4 linked regions of the Homo sapiens genome follow. The protein of the gene in region 3 interacts with the protein of the main gene of each other region in a pairwise test. Each region holds a gene or a part of one and is shown on either strand. Other genes may lie near its edges.

Region 1 (3,500 bases), on a different chromosome or scaffold from region 3:
TAAATCTTATTAAAACTGCAGCCACCAGTCTGGGTAACATAGCGAGACCCCATCTCTACAAAACATTTGTAAAAAATGGTCAGGTGAATTGGCAAGTGCCTGTAATCCCAGCTACTCAGGAGGTTGAAGTGGGAGGACTGCTTGAGCCCAGGAATTCTAGGTTATAATGGTGCCAATGTACTCCATTCTAGGGGTGACAGAGGGAGATTCCATGTCAAAACAAAAAAACCCCCAAAACTGTTACCAGATCTGACCCATTCTAATACCTGCTGGCCTGAAGTGATCAGCCCTTCAGTCCTTCATCCTTAGACAGGAAATCCCTCCAAGGGAGATTCAATCCTTGCTGGTGGAAGAAATTACCAGAACCTACACAGTTTCTTTATATACAATGTCTACATATAATAAAAATTACTAGATATGTGAAGAGAGATAAAAATGTGATGAATAAAAAAATGGATACAGGCACACAGATGATCTCATTGGATTTAGTAGATAAGAATTAGATGGACTAAACTGATGAAAAGATGGGAAATTTCATCAGATAATTTAAATGTATTAAAATGAATCAAATTGGCATACTACATTTAGAAGAAAACAAGTTCTGAAATTAATAACTCACTAGATGATTTGACAGAAGACTCAGGCACAGAGGAAGACAGCTTAATTAACTAAAACACAGGTCAACAGAAAATATTCAAATTGAAGCAGAAAGATATGCGAAATGAACAAAACAGATCAGACAATAAGAGACATGAAGGAAAAAGGCCAACATATCTGTGATTTGGGTCCCAGAAGCAGGAGAGAAAGAAAGAAAACCAGACAAAGCCATATTTGAAGAGATATTGAGTGAAAATTTTCCAAAGTTGATGAAAGACGTCAATCCACAGATAAAAGAAGCTCAGTTAACCCAAAGGAGAATAAATAAAATGAAAACCACATATAGGCACATTATATTCACTGTGGTAAGTCAAAAATGAGAGAAAAACTTTATGAGGATAACAACAGGCTACCTTCAAAGAAGCATAACTTTCCAACAGAAACTAGGAAAGTCAAAAGATAATGGAATGAGAGTGTAAAGGCAGGCCAGACTGGAAGAAGAGATTTGCAGCACGTGCACACACACACACACACACACACACACACACACAGAATTTTGACAGATGGCTTGTATCCAGAATATATAAAGAACTGTGACAGATCAATAATAACAATAATAAAAGATCAGCGGCACAATAGAAAAATGGGCCAAACAGAAGTTCAAGACCAGCCTGGGCAACATGGTGAAACCCCATCTCTACCCCTTCCCAATATCCAAAATAAAAAAATTAGTTGAGTGTGGTGGTGGACACCTATAGTCTCAGCTTCACGGCTAATTGTGCCACTGCCTTCCAGCCTGGGCAACAGAGTGAGACCCTGTCTCAAAAAAAAAAAAAAAAAAAAAAAAAAAAAAAAAAAAAAAGAGAGAGAGAGAGAAAGAAAGAAAGAAAAAGAAAAATGGGCCAAAGGCTTGTAGAGGCATTTTAAATAGAAAATATACAAATGACTTGACCCAAAAACATATAAGAAGATGCTTAACATCATTAGTAGCCAGGGAAATACAAATTAAAACCATAATGAGATACCACTACACAGCCACCAGAATGACTAAAGTTAAATGGGCAAACAATACTAAGTACTGGTGAGGATGTGAAGCAATACACACTTTGCTGGTGGGGATGGATGTAAACTGATTTGGACTATGAAACAGTTTTGCAGTATCTACTAAAGCTAAACATACACTGGACTTATTACCCAACAATTTTTATCCTGGGCATATACCCAAAGGAAATAAGTTCATCAAAAGACATGAATGAGAATGTTCATATTAGCATTATTCATAATAGCTCCACACTGGAAACAACTAAAATTTCTTCAGTAGTGGAATGGAATACACTGTGGTGTATTCACACAAAGGAACGCTGCACAGCATTAAAAAATAACAACACGTACAACAACAAATGAATCTCAAAAACATAATGCTGAGCTAAAGAACCAGATGCAAATATTATACACTGTTTAATTACATATGAAGTTTAAAAGCAGGCACAATTGGTATATGGTGAAAAAAGTTATAAAAGTGGTTACCTGTGGGAGTGAGTCCTGAATGGAAGGAAGCGAGACGGAATCTTTGGGAGAGCACGGGGGGCTGAAAATATCCTATATCTTCATCTAGAGCCGTGGTGAGTGATTTTGGCCCCAGAGGACGCTTGGCAATGTCTAGAGACATTTTTGGTCATGGCATCCAGGGAGGGGCGCTACTGCATCATGCAGTGGGTGGAGATCAGGGATACTGCTAAACATCCTACAGGGCAATGGACAGCCCCCCTCAATAAGGAGTTGTTCAACCCCAAATTTCCACAGTGCTGAGGTGAGAAACCCTGATCTAAATGGTGGTTCTGTGGGGGTACACTTACATAAAGTTTACTAAGCTGTACTCTTAAGATGTGTAAACTTTACTGTAAGTTATAACTCAAGTAAATGAAGTTAAAAGCTGTCATAAACCTCACAAAAATACCAAATAGCTCCTCACTGAAACCTAACAAACACAGAAAAACTTTGTTTCAGTTTTAGAAATACTCTAATTCATTAAACAGTCCTAACAACTGAAATTTGCGGGGATTATAGTAGGTCAGGAAGAATTAAACTCTGTATGTAAAGTCCCCCTTAAATGCAAAGAAATATCTATACCTTTCTTTATGGCAGGAGATATATGAATTATATCTGGGTAGTCACTAGAAATAAGTATTTGTAAAAACACAATGAATGTATAATGGAAGACCCCATACATGTAAGATTCTTCTGGAGTCATCAAAAGATGAATAGAGAAAAATATACATATACCTTTTTTTTTTTTAAGTCAGGGTCTCACTCTGTTGCCCAGGCTGGAGGGCAGAGGCAAGATCATGGCCCACTGCAACCTCAGTGTCCCCAGGCTCAGGTGATTCTCCAGCCTCAGCCTCCCAAGTAGCTGGGACTACAGGTGTGCACCACCACACCCAGCTAATTTTTTGCATTTTTTAAAGAGACGGGGTTTCACTATGTTGCCCAGGCTGGTCTGGAACTCCTGGGCTCAAGTGATCCACCCGTCTTGGCCTCCTAAAGTGTGGGAATTACAGGCGTGAGCCACCACGCCTGGCCACATGTACTTTTTAACAGTAGTCTAATCTGAGTTCTCTGGATAATGACTTCCTGTCATTAATTATCAACATGACTTTTATACAAATTAAGAAATCTATGGGCGTGTGCTCTTGGGCTGCTCTCTGGCCAGCACCCTCTCCTGTGTCACCTCTCTTGTGTCCACAGTCTAACCCATCTCTTCATTTCCCTCAACCTCAGGTGGAGCCTCCACCAAAATGCAGATTTTTCCAAAAATCCTTACAGGGACGATCATCACCCTAGAGGTTGAACCCTTGGATACAACAGAAAAATGTAAAGGCCAATATCCAGGATAAGGAACGAAT
Region 2 (4,071 bases), on a different chromosome or scaffold from region 3:
GCCCTGGTTCTGTTGGAAGGAGGCTCTCAGATCGAGGGTCGCATAGACAGGGTCTGCTCTAGGTCTGCCAGGATCGGCCTTTCCAGCAGGATGGGTCCCTGGCATACCCACCCCAGGACCTGGAATCTTCTTGTTCCTGGTTCTTAGCCATCTAATTTTTGTTCTATTTGGACCTTTCATTGATGAGAATTAGCAGCCCGTCCCCACCCCCCAGCCCCTGCCTTAAAGAAGTGGACATTTTAAGCGGCTCGAGTTGGTCTTCGAGTTCAAGAGGACAAATGGAATACAGAATGACGAACCTGGCTTATGGCCAGGAGCCCCCAGTTCCTTTTTTTTTTTTTTTTCTGGCAAGTTTGTGTAACCAAAAGGCCCCAGTTCTTAGCTCAACATGAGAGTGTAAAACCCAGCGTTCAAGGAATGTGAACCAATACCTGGTATGGGCAAGGACAAGGAGGAGAATAGGAAGCAGAAGGAATAGAAGGACCCAGACTAACTCCAGAGGAAAATGGTGAGCTAAGACCTTTACTGCATCACAAATCAATAAATACTTATTGAGAAGCTGCTACATGCAAGATTCTCCTGCCTGTACCACTACGCCCGAGGTTTTTGTACTGTGACACTGAGGGACAGTCTGCCAAGCTGCTCACGGCCCTTCAGTGAGTGGGTGGGGGCGGAGGAGAGGGTCTGTGTTCTGAGGGGACATTGGCCCTGGAGACAGGGTGTGTAGGAGATTCGTGAAGGGGGAACGAGGCACTGGTGGCTGGCTGAAGAGCTCCAGAGCCCAGATGGTCCTAGGACTCCTGGGCTCCTGGCTAGACCCTGAGTGAGGGATCCAGATATTGGAATGCCTGGCTGAGGATCACTCATTTGAGGTGTGACATGAAGAAAGTCACTGGGTCCCTTTCCCCCAGATGTAGGTTTTCTTGGGACATGCCCTGCTGCCCCTGCCCCCTGCCCCCACCTGTCCCTAGTAGGTCACTCAGTGAGGTGAGGCGTGCAGTTAGGGGAAACTCTTAAGGTTTCTCAGAAGCTGGGACCCGCCGGGTCTCCAGTTGGTTACTAAGATGTCCAACTGGGTCAGGGCTCGTGGTCAGTTTGAAGCTGCAGGCAGAGGAAGACGCCCAGTAACCTAATCAGGCGAGGCCAGCGGCTGTGACCGGGGGCCAGGGTGGGAGCACATTGCCCCTTTGGGGCCGCGGGTTTTTAGTCTGATTTGGGGTATTGCCCAGACTCTGTGATTAGACTCAGGGCAGCTTCATGGGCTTGCAACTGGGGCAGTCACACGGGGGCCTGCACCCAGCAGGACCCCCCACGAGGTTTAGTGCTCTGCTGTTGCCTTCTTATTTATAATAATTTTTCAACAAGGGGCCCCATGTTTTCATTTTGCATTGGGTCCCACAAATTATGTAGCAGGTCCTGGTTAGATGAATGGTCCGGCTCTGATTCCACCTACGGTTTGGATCCGAGGGGCCAGGCTTTGGGTAGTCAGCCCTTCTGCCCACTTTCTCCCCGTGTCCTACTTACACTTCCCAGCCTTGGGATCTGGGCAAGCGAGAGGCGGGCTTCTCTGAGCAAGTCTGGGAACATGGTTGGTGGAACTACAAAGTCCACTCCACAAAGTCCACTCCAGCCGGGGGAGCAGGAGGGAGTCAGACAATATCTTAGGGTAAGTTTGGGACAGGAGAGTTGGTAGGAGCCAGGGTTTGGCTCCTTCATGATCTAACCCAGAGTGCAGCCCCGAAACAAGTCCTCTCTCCAGGGGGAGAAAAGACAGTGAAGAAGTTTCCAAGAAACCCTTACAACCAGCCTCTGCCGTCGGCTCACAAGGAACCCTGTGTTTCTCTGGTTGAGCTGCTCCACACACACACACATCTTCTGGGAGCCCAGTGACAACCAAGTCAACTGCACCACTACGCTTCACTGGAGAGACTTGAGTGGTGGCAGCGTAGTGCTGGAGACCATTTTCTTAGCCCACCCAAGAAACCTTTCCAAGAATACCTTATCTCTAGAGATTCTACAACAGGTTCCAAGACATTTGTCAGATTAACAGTTTTCTCACCCTGCTCCCTGACTCCAGCCTGCTGGGATCCTCTTCCTTGCTACCATCTGGTCTCACATTCCCTCAGTTTAGCACATAATTGTTGCCTAATAGCTTCCAGTGAGTGATTTTTTTCTCTGGCCAGAGCAGAAGCTATTTGAGGGCAAAGACCAGGTCCTCAACTTCTCCACCCAACACAGAATGTAGTGCCCTGATGACATAATCATATGGCCAGAGACGAACAGCTATGCATTCATTGACTGATTAGCAATGCCAGCCTCCTTACGGTAAGAAAACCTCCAAAGTACTTTCCTGTCTAGTTCCATATTCCGACCCTAAGAGAAAAGGAGAGAAAGAATGGAGAGGTGAAGTATCCTGTTCCCAGTCACATAGCAACTCAGAGGAGGATGCAGGGCCTGAACCCGTGTCTTCCAGCTTCCTCTAAAGGATGTCTCCTAAGGACAGCAGCTCTCCTTATCTGCTTCTTCCACAGAATGGAAAATAAACTCTTAAAGGGCGGGAGCTGACTGACCTGTCTAGATTTTACAGATCCACAGTGGGAGAGGATTCCCACACTGTCCCCTCTCCCTCGGACTCTGGCAAAGGATGTTAGAATTCCAGACAGGGCCTCGGCGACAGGAAGCTACCCGTGTCTACTCACCAGGTCCTCCAGGTTCTCGAGGTCCATTTCCAGCGTTAGCGGGTAGTTCATGGCTGTGCCGGCTGTGAGTCACCAGACTGGTCACTGTCTTATGTTGAGAGGCTCCCCGCCAGGTGCCTCTAGAGAGGTGGCAGCCGTCAGCTGCAAATTTAAGCAAATGAGCTGCGCATCGTCTCCTGAGGCAGTAGGGCCGCGACCTGCCTCACAACTCATCACTTTTTTTTTTTTTTCCACTGGGTCTTTTCTGTTTTTTTGAAGAAAGAGGGAAAATCCCCCACAGCATCAGTGCTAGTCAAGCATTTCAGCTTCTTTCCCGGCAATAATTGTCTCAACTGGGGCCTATGACTAGTTTAAAGGCTGCCCTCACTTCTCCTCCCTATACCCCCAATAAGGGGCTCACAACTTGTAATGAAACCACCACGCAAAGTCAGCAGGTTGATGAGGGAAACTCCTGATCAACAGAGAACAGGAGAAGAGCTCTCCCAGCAACCTCTCCTCCAAGCCACCTCCAAACCTTCATTTTCCTCACCACTAGGGTGATCAACCATTCCAGTCTGCCAAGGACTGAAAAGTCCCTTGACTTGGGAAACCCCTAAGTCCTGGCAAGTTAGGGCACTTGGTCACACTACTTGCCACCATCCTTTTGCCCAACAGAGGCAAAACCCCTTCCCTTCTCAGCTCAAGTTCAGAAAAGATAGGTTAGAATTTTTCAAAGGGAACAACAGTAAAACAATACTGGAAGACAAAAATGAAATCAACTTTGGAAGGCCGAGGCAGGAGGATGGCTTGAGGCCAGGAGTTGGATACCAGCCTGGGCAACATAGCAAGACCATGTCTCTAAAAGAAAAAAAAAAAGTGAAATCACCAAGAAAAGCACATAGTTACAGAGTCATTTTCTGACTCAAAAATAATGATGTTCTATCTATAAATTAACTTTGTTTGCTCATAAATTATTAACCTCATAAACTACCAAGCTAGAGATGGCTTCAGAGATCATCCAGTCTAACCCTCAATTTTTATTCAGGAGGTCCGTGAGGCCGAGAGGGAGAGCAACTTACCCGAGATCCCACAGCTAACCAGTGGCAGAGCTGGGACTTGAACTCAGGTCTTTTGACTCCACCTTTAGTGTTTTCTCTACTCCAGGCTGCCACTCTTGCAGGCACTCATAACCTCTGTCCTTTCCCTCAACTCTGTCCTGTCTGAGGGCCGCTTCCTTTAAGAAGCCGTTTTGTAGATGTTGATCAATTTCCCTTCCAAGTCTCATTTTGTGGCTTTTTCTTCCAGAAGTGGGCATTTCCTCTCTTGATCCACAATGATGTGAGAAAGATGACTGCACGCACAGAGGCACCCACACATGGTGGCTGCTTCTTGG
Region 3 (3,500 bases):
GCTGGTTCTTCTGTGCCGGCCTCTGTGCACATTTACAAGGCTTGAAAGGCAGCACCACACCAGTCTGAGCAAAGGCCTAAAGGTGGGGTCATCTCAGCCTTGTTGGGGAGAAGATATCCTTATGGCTTGGAGGAATCTGGGGGCTCCAAGGCTGCTGACAGCCTCAGGATATGCAAAGGAGGTGATGGCAGCACCTACTGTGTGTGCCCCCGGCGGGAGGAGGAGGTAATGAAGTCTGCACGACATGGCAGGGCAGGGCTGGGCCTCTCGGGGAAGTGGTGTCCACACCAGAGGAAAAGGAGGAAGCAGCTGGGGGAGGAGGAGCCCAAAAGAGGAAGAGGCCAGAGGGCTGCCTGGTGCTAGGGTGGGGGTGAGAGCCCAAGGGCCCCCCAGGGCTTTGCCAACTGGAAGGGTCTAGGAGGTGAACACCTGCCCAGGCTTATCTTTGCACTCCTGTGGGCCATTCTAGTGGCGGTCACTGAGTTGGAGCCAGTCCAGGTAGCTCTGTACCTTGTCCCACCCCAGCAACCATCGGGCCCAAGATCCCAGAGAAGGTGGTGCCTTCGAGAAGGATTCCAGGCCCCTTCTTTGGCCACAGGAAGTTGTGGCTGGGAGAAGGACGCTGGCGGGAGGGCTAGCAGGAAGGCAGAGGGCTGCTCTTAGATTCCCGAGCGGCCATTGCTCTCCAAAGCCGGAAGGCCAGCCACAGGCTGAGATGAATGCCTGGAAATGCAGCAACAGCCCCGAGATGAGCTCACTCTGGGTTTCCCCTGCTGGGGGGCGGACAAAGGATCCCTGGCCTCAGCCTAAGGATTCTCCCCTACCAGCACCCACTCACTGGGTCTAGGGCTGCATTCACTGGGCCTGTTTCCCCTCAGGTGATAACCACAGCTGTCTCTGATTGAGCCTTGACTGTTGTGTGGAGCTGAATTCTTCATTATCTTGTCATATTTAATCCTGTGAGGCTGGGACTGATATTACACCCATTTCACTGATGGACAAACTGAAGCTCAGGGACTTTATGCACTTAAACAGGGAACAGAGATGTCAGGACATGACCCATGTAGTGATTAAGCGCCTGCCTCCAACTGCCATGGCCCTTTGGGAGTCTGTGCTGGCTGGAAGTAACGGATCAGGCAGGACAGCAGGCAGACGGTGTGGGTGCGTGTGTGTTCTGCCTGTGCCTATGGGCCCTGGCTTTCGGGCCTCAATTCTTCTTTTAGGAGGCGGAAAGGGAGCTGTCTGTCCTGGAAGGTGGGACCCAAGACTCTGTGTATGAAGCTTTCTACAGCCATGTGGTCATGGGGGACCCCCTCCACTCCTTTTTTTTTTTTTTTTTTTTTGAGATGGAGTCTCACTCTGTCACCCAGGCTGGAGTGCAGTGGCATGATCTCGGCTCACTGCAACCTCCGCCTCCTGGGTTCAAGCGATTCTCCTGCCTCAGCCTCCTGAGTAGCTGTGACTACAGGTACGTGCCACCACGCCCAACTAATTTTTGTATTTTTAATAGAGACGGGGTTTCACCATGTTGGTCAGGCTGGTCTCGAACTCCTGACCTCAAGTGATTCGCCTGCCTCGGCCTCCCAGAGTGCTGGGATTACAGGTGTGAGCCACTGCGCCCGGCTGCAGCTGCACCTTTTGACTTCCCACTTTTTCTCCTAGTCCGTATCCTCTCACAGTGATGCTCAAGTTATAGCTGGCAATTTAGGACTTCATTCTTTCCCTAATATTATGCTTGTTCTCCCATAAGCCCCAGTCTTAGACTGAGACCAAGCCTGGGGAAGGCTCAGAAGCTATTGAAGTCCATGGTGAGGGCCTCTGAGACTGGGAATTGTCCAGAGGAGTGAAATGAAAGCATGTTCCTTAGGGCTGCACTGTGAGCACAGGCTCAGTGCTGGGTGCACGTACGGTACTGTGTGGTGGTAGAATGTGGCCATGGTGTTGGCTGATGACTGCATGATAGTTGTTGAGGCTGGTTCCTCTTGCTCCTTGGCCTCCGAATCTCAGTGCTGTGGCCTAGTGGGGCCTTGCCCTCTCTTGTAGGGGTTCCTAGGGGTTCTGCTGTGTTGCCAGGCCAGGCCGTAAGGGACTGAGGGGGCTGAGGAAGGCTTAGGAGAGCCAGAGCAGAAGCGTCCAAGCCTCTCTGGGCCATGAAGCCATGCACAGAGCAGAGACCCGTGCATCCTCATGGCCACCCAAGACTGTGGGTCCCAGAGGGTCCAGTTCCTCACCATGAGACCTCAGACTGTCCTCTTCCCTCTCTGTATCCAGCACTAGAATCTGTGATGCTGTGATTTTTTTTTTTTTTTTCTGAGACTGAGTTTCGCTCTTGTTGCCCAGGCTAGAGTGCAGTGATGCAATCTCGGCTCACCACAACCTCCGCCTCCCAGGTTTAAGTGATTCTCCTGCCTCAGCCTCCAGAGTAGCTGGGATTACAGGCATGTGCCACCATGCCCGGCTAATTTTGTATTTTTAGTAGAGACAGGGTTTCTCCATGTTGGTCAGGCTGGTCTCGAACTCCTGACCTCAGGTGATCCGCCCACCTCAGCCTCCCAAAGTGCTGGGAATACAGGCGTGAGCCACCCCGCCCCGCCAGTGCCGTGATTCTTAGCATGGTCTCCTGGCCTGTGGACACAAGGACAGCTGCTGGCTTGGGTTGGGCCCTGAGGCAGTTTGGGGTGACTTTGAAGAGGCTACTCAGGGCAGGCCTTGGGTTTGGCACCCTCCCTCAAGGGGTACATTTCATAGATGAGGCCTAGGCTCCCGTTATCTTTCCCAGAGTCCACCGCCATGAATCAGAAGGGAAAAGAGGTCATTCAGGTGCCTTGGGAACAGCGGAGGGATGCCTGAAATGAAGAGGCCTCCAGGGAGACGGTGCCAAATGGCCCAGCTCCGCGTGATCCGCGTCTTGTCCAGCACCTCCTGGCTCCTGCACAGGCGGTACCTGGGGCCTGAGGCGCCAGCGATGAACAGGTCTGGGGCCTCCTTTATATCAGGCCAGCCTTCCTCACCCGGTGCCTGAGTTTCCCTCTGTGCAGTGGAAAGGGCCCCACTGAGGGAGACACACCTTGCCCCAGAAAGACTTTCCCATGTGTGGGCAGGACCTGAGGCCTCAGTTTCCCTAACACAGAGATCTCTGACTTGGCAGTAGGAAGCCAGGCCCTGCTTGGTAGTGCTCCCCTTTGGGCACTGTGAACCCCTGGAAGCCGCTGGAGGCAGCCGAGTGCCAGAGACTGGCGGGAGGGAGGTGTGGAGTCTGTTGGTCTGTTCAGGCATCCGTTATAGGGCCATGCCACACACATGGGTGGGAGTGTTGCCGGTCCCTTTCAAGACCTCGAGTCCCTGCCTCCCAGTGCCGGACCCGTGCTGAGCCTTCTCGGAGGGAATGAGGGGGGCCGGGGAGCAGCACCTGGAGGAAGGAAGAGACGCCAGGGGCGGGGCTCAGAGGGCCTTTGTCTGGCGGGGTCTCTGCCCCTCCCTCCCGTTGCCATGGTTTCTGT
Region 4 (3,280 bases), on a different chromosome or scaffold from region 3:
TTTTTTTATTTTTCATTTTTTTTATTTTTAGAGATGGGGCTTCCCTTTGTCACCCAGGCTGGAGTGCAGTGGCGTGATCATGGCTCACTGCAACCCAGACCTCCTGGGCTCAAGTGATTCTTCCACCTCAACCCTTAGAGTAGCTGGGATCATAGGTGCACACCACCATGCCCAGCCAATTTTTAAATTTTTTTTTTCTTTTTGAGGCAGAGTCTTGCTCTGTTGCCCAGGCTGGAGTGCAATGGCATGATCTTGGCACACTGCAACCCCCGCCTCCCAGGTTCAAGCTATTCTCCTGCCTCAGCCTCCTGAGTAGCTGGGGTTACAGGCACTTGGCATTATGCCTGGCTAATTTTTGTATTTTTGTAGAGACGGGGTTTTACTATGCTGGCCAGGCTGGTCTTGAACTCCTGACTTCAGGTGATCCTCCTGCCTCGGCCTCCCAAAGTGCTGGGATTACAGGCGTGAGCCACCGCACCCGGCCCAATTTTTTACTTTTTTTTTTTTTTTTGTAGAGACGGGGTCTAGCCATCTTTTCTAAGCTGGTCTCGAACTTAATGTGCTCAAATGATCTTGCCTTAGCCTTCCAAAGTACTGGGATTACAGGCATGAGCCCCTAAATTTGGCCCCTACATTTTCTTTAATCTTAATCAATTTACATTTAAACAGCCCATGTGGCTAGCGGCTACTGTACTGGACAGCGCAGATCCAGAGTTTAGGCAGAGAAGAGACCCCCAGGCCTGAGCCCTGGGCCACACTAGCATGTGGAGGTCAGGAAGAGGATGGAGCCGTCAAAGGAGGTGGAGGGGCAGCCAGAGAGGACAGAATCATGTTCTGGAAGCCAAGGGCAGAAAGTCAAGTCAGATGCAGGTGGAAATTAACCACTGGATTTGCAAGATGAGGGTTCCTGGCCTCCTCCTCAGGAGGAAGGTTGTGCTTGTCTGAGGGAGCCGAGGAAGGAGGGCCGGTGGTGAGGACAGGAAGTGTGGCTGACCGAGCCTGAAGCCCTGCAGCTGTGGGGTCTACGTTGGTAGGAGAGGCTCCCCTCACAACTGGAGTCGGCACTGGCCTGGTTGTCTGGGAGGCAGAGGTCCCTGATAACCCTGGAGCTGACTCTGTGTCCAGAGCACTGAATGCCAGGGCCAGAGAATCCTGCATGACAGTGACCCAAGCATGTTTCCTCGAACCCTCCCTTTGATCTATTCCATTCTCAACCCCCTGGTCGCTAGGCAGTGGCCCTAGCAACGGGTCTAGTGGGGTACTAAAGCCTGGGGGCCACCGTTCCACCGCGGGAGACCCGTAGTTACCTGTCCTCTGATAACAGACCCCACATCAGCCCAAAATTTCTTCACCAGGGACCTTACACATCCCGTCCTCGGTCCCCTGAGATACCTTGCTATCCTCTTCCCTTCAGATATCAACAGTGATGGTGTCCTGGATGAGCAGGAGCTGGAGGCACTCTTCACCAAGGAGGTGAGCATCTTGGAAGCCTCGGGCACCTGGAGGGACGCCCAAATCAGCCACTTGTTTCCTCCTGCAGTCCCCTTAAATCCCCCTGGATGGGAGCTCAGTGAAAACTACAACTCCCATCAGCCCCTGGGGCAAAAACGGCTCCCAGGAGTGGTAGCGTGCCCAAAGGACTGCTGGGAGTTGAAGTTGTCGGGAATGAGCTCGCTGGGGACCTCTCAATGCTGTCTGCCTCTCGCTTGCTCCTGCAGCTGGAGAAAGTGTACGACCCAAAGAATGAGGAGGACGACATGCGGGAGATGGAGGAGGAGCGACTGCGCATGCGGGAGCATGTGATGAAGAATGTGAGGTGGGGGCCAGGCGGGGGAGAGGACGGGCCCCCAGCTCTGTCACTCACCCTTATCTGGCTCCCCAGGTGGACACCAACCAGGACCGCCTCGTGACCCTGGAGGAGTTCCTCGCATCCACTCAGAGGAAGGAGTTTGGGGACACCGGGGAGGGCTGGGAGGTGAGAACATGGGGGATACTCGGGGTCCTGAACCTCTCTCTCTTCTAGCCATGACCTTTCTTTCAGAATCTTAGGCCCCTTCTCTTTCTCTCTGGGTCCCCGTCCATTCTCCTGGGTCACTGCATCTCTATCTCTGGGTCTCTGTTTTCCCCTGTCTCTAGGACTCTTATTTATTTATTTATTTATTTATTTATTTATTTATTTATTCTGAGACGGAGTCTCACTCCATCGCCCAGGCTGCAGTGCAGTGGCACGATCTCGGCTCACTGCAGCCTCCACCTCCCAGGTTCAAGCAATTCTCCTGGCTCATCCTCTTGAGTAGCTGGGATTATAGGTGCGTGCCACCACACCCAGCTGATTTTTGTATTTTTAGTAGAGGCAGGATTTCACCATGTTGGCCAGGCTGGTCTCAAACTCCTGACCTCAGGTTATCCACCCACCTTGGCCTCCCAAAGTGCTGGGATTAGAGGTGTGATTTTTTTTTTTTTTTTTTTTTTTCTGAAACAGGGTCTTGCTCTGTCGCGTAGGCTGGAGCCCAGTGGTGGGATCTCGGCTCACTGCAACCTCCGCCTCTTGGATTCAAGCGATCCTCCCATCTCAGCCTCATGAGTAGCTGGGATTACAGGCGTGAGCCACCATGCCTGGCTAATTTTTGTATTTTTTGTAGAGATGGGGTTTTGCCATATCGGCCAGGCTGCTCTAGAACTGCTGGACTCAAGCGATCCACCTGACCTGGCCTCCCTAAGTGGTGGGATTACAGGCATGCACCACCGCACCACACCTAGCTAATTTTTGTATTTTTTGGTAGAGACAGGGTTTTGCATGTTGGCCAGGCTGCTCTGAAACTCCTGGACTCAAGCTATCCACCCTTCTCAGCCTCCCAAAGTGCTGGGATTACCCAGGCTGGAGTGCAGGGGTGTTATCATGGCCCACTGCAGCCTCAAACTCCTGTCCTCAAGTGATCCTCCTGCCTGAGCCTCCCTATTAGCTGGGACTACAGGCACATGCCAGCATGCCTAGCTAATCTAGCTCATTCTTTTATTTATTTATTAATATTTTTTGAGACAGGGTCTCCTGTCACCCAGGCTGGAGTGCAGTGGTGTAATCATAGTTCACTGCAGCCTTGAATTCCTGGGCTCAGGTGATCCTCCTTCCTTAGCCTCCTGAGTAACTGGGACTACAGGCACATACCACCATGCCCAGCTAATCTAGGTCTCTGTTTTATTTATTTATTTATTTGTTTGTTTATTTTTCAATACAGAGTTTTGCTCTTGTTGCCCAGGCTGTAGTGCAATGGTGCATTCT

The links. The genes of interacting proteins can lie anywhere in the genome.
Region 1: the proteins of GNAI2 (region 3) and RGS20 interact in binary tests that used the Homo sapiens proteins (3 or more experiments, as listed by UniProt).
Region 2: the proteins of GNAI2 (region 3) and CXCR5 interact in binary tests that used the Homo sapiens proteins (3 or more experiments, as listed by UniProt).
Region 4: the proteins of GNAI2 (region 3) and NUCB1 interact in a two-hybrid assay, tested with the Homo sapiens proteins (one study listed by BioGRID).

What each region holds. Positions count from the first base shown.
Region 1 is NC_000008.11:53,887,372-53,890,871, reverse strand, and holds part of RGS20 (regulator of G-protein signaling 20), read right to left. Parts: intron 1-3,500. UniProt on the Homo sapiens protein: Inhibits signal transduction by increasing the GTPase activity of G protein alpha subunits thereby driving them into their inactive GDP-bound form.
Region 2 is NC_000011.10:118,882,621-118,886,691, reverse strand, and holds the start of CXCR5 (C-X-C chemokine receptor type 5), read right to left. Parts: upstream 2,801-4,071; 5' UTR 2,751-2,800; coding exon 2,700-2,750; intron 566-2,699; exon of another isoform or gene 1-565. UniProt on the Homo sapiens protein: Cytokine receptor that binds to B-lymphocyte chemoattractant (BLC). Involved in B-cell migration into B-cell follicles of spleen and Peyer patches but not into those of mesenteric or peripheral lymph nodes.
Region 3 is NC_000003.12:50,242,704-50,246,203, forward strand, and holds part of GNAI2 (guanine nucleotide-binding protein G(i) subunit alpha-2), read left to right. Parts: intron 1-3,500. UniProt on the Homo sapiens protein: Guanine nucleotide-binding proteins (G proteins) are involved as modulators or transducers in various transmembrane signaling systems.
Region 4 is NC_000019.10:48,917,312-48,920,591, forward strand, and holds part of NUCB1 (nucleobindin-1 precursor), read left to right. Parts: intron 1-1,392; exon of another isoform or gene 1,393-1,414; coding exon 1,415-1,473; exon of another isoform or gene 1,474-1,580; intron 1,581-1,718; coding exon 1,719-1,811; intron 1,812-1,882; coding exon 1,883-1,975; intron 1,976-3,280. UniProt on the Homo sapiens protein: Major calcium-binding protein of the Golgi which may have a role in calcium homeostasis. Acts as a non-receptor guanine nucleotide exchange factor which binds to and activates alpha subunits of guanine nucleotide-binding proteins (G proteins).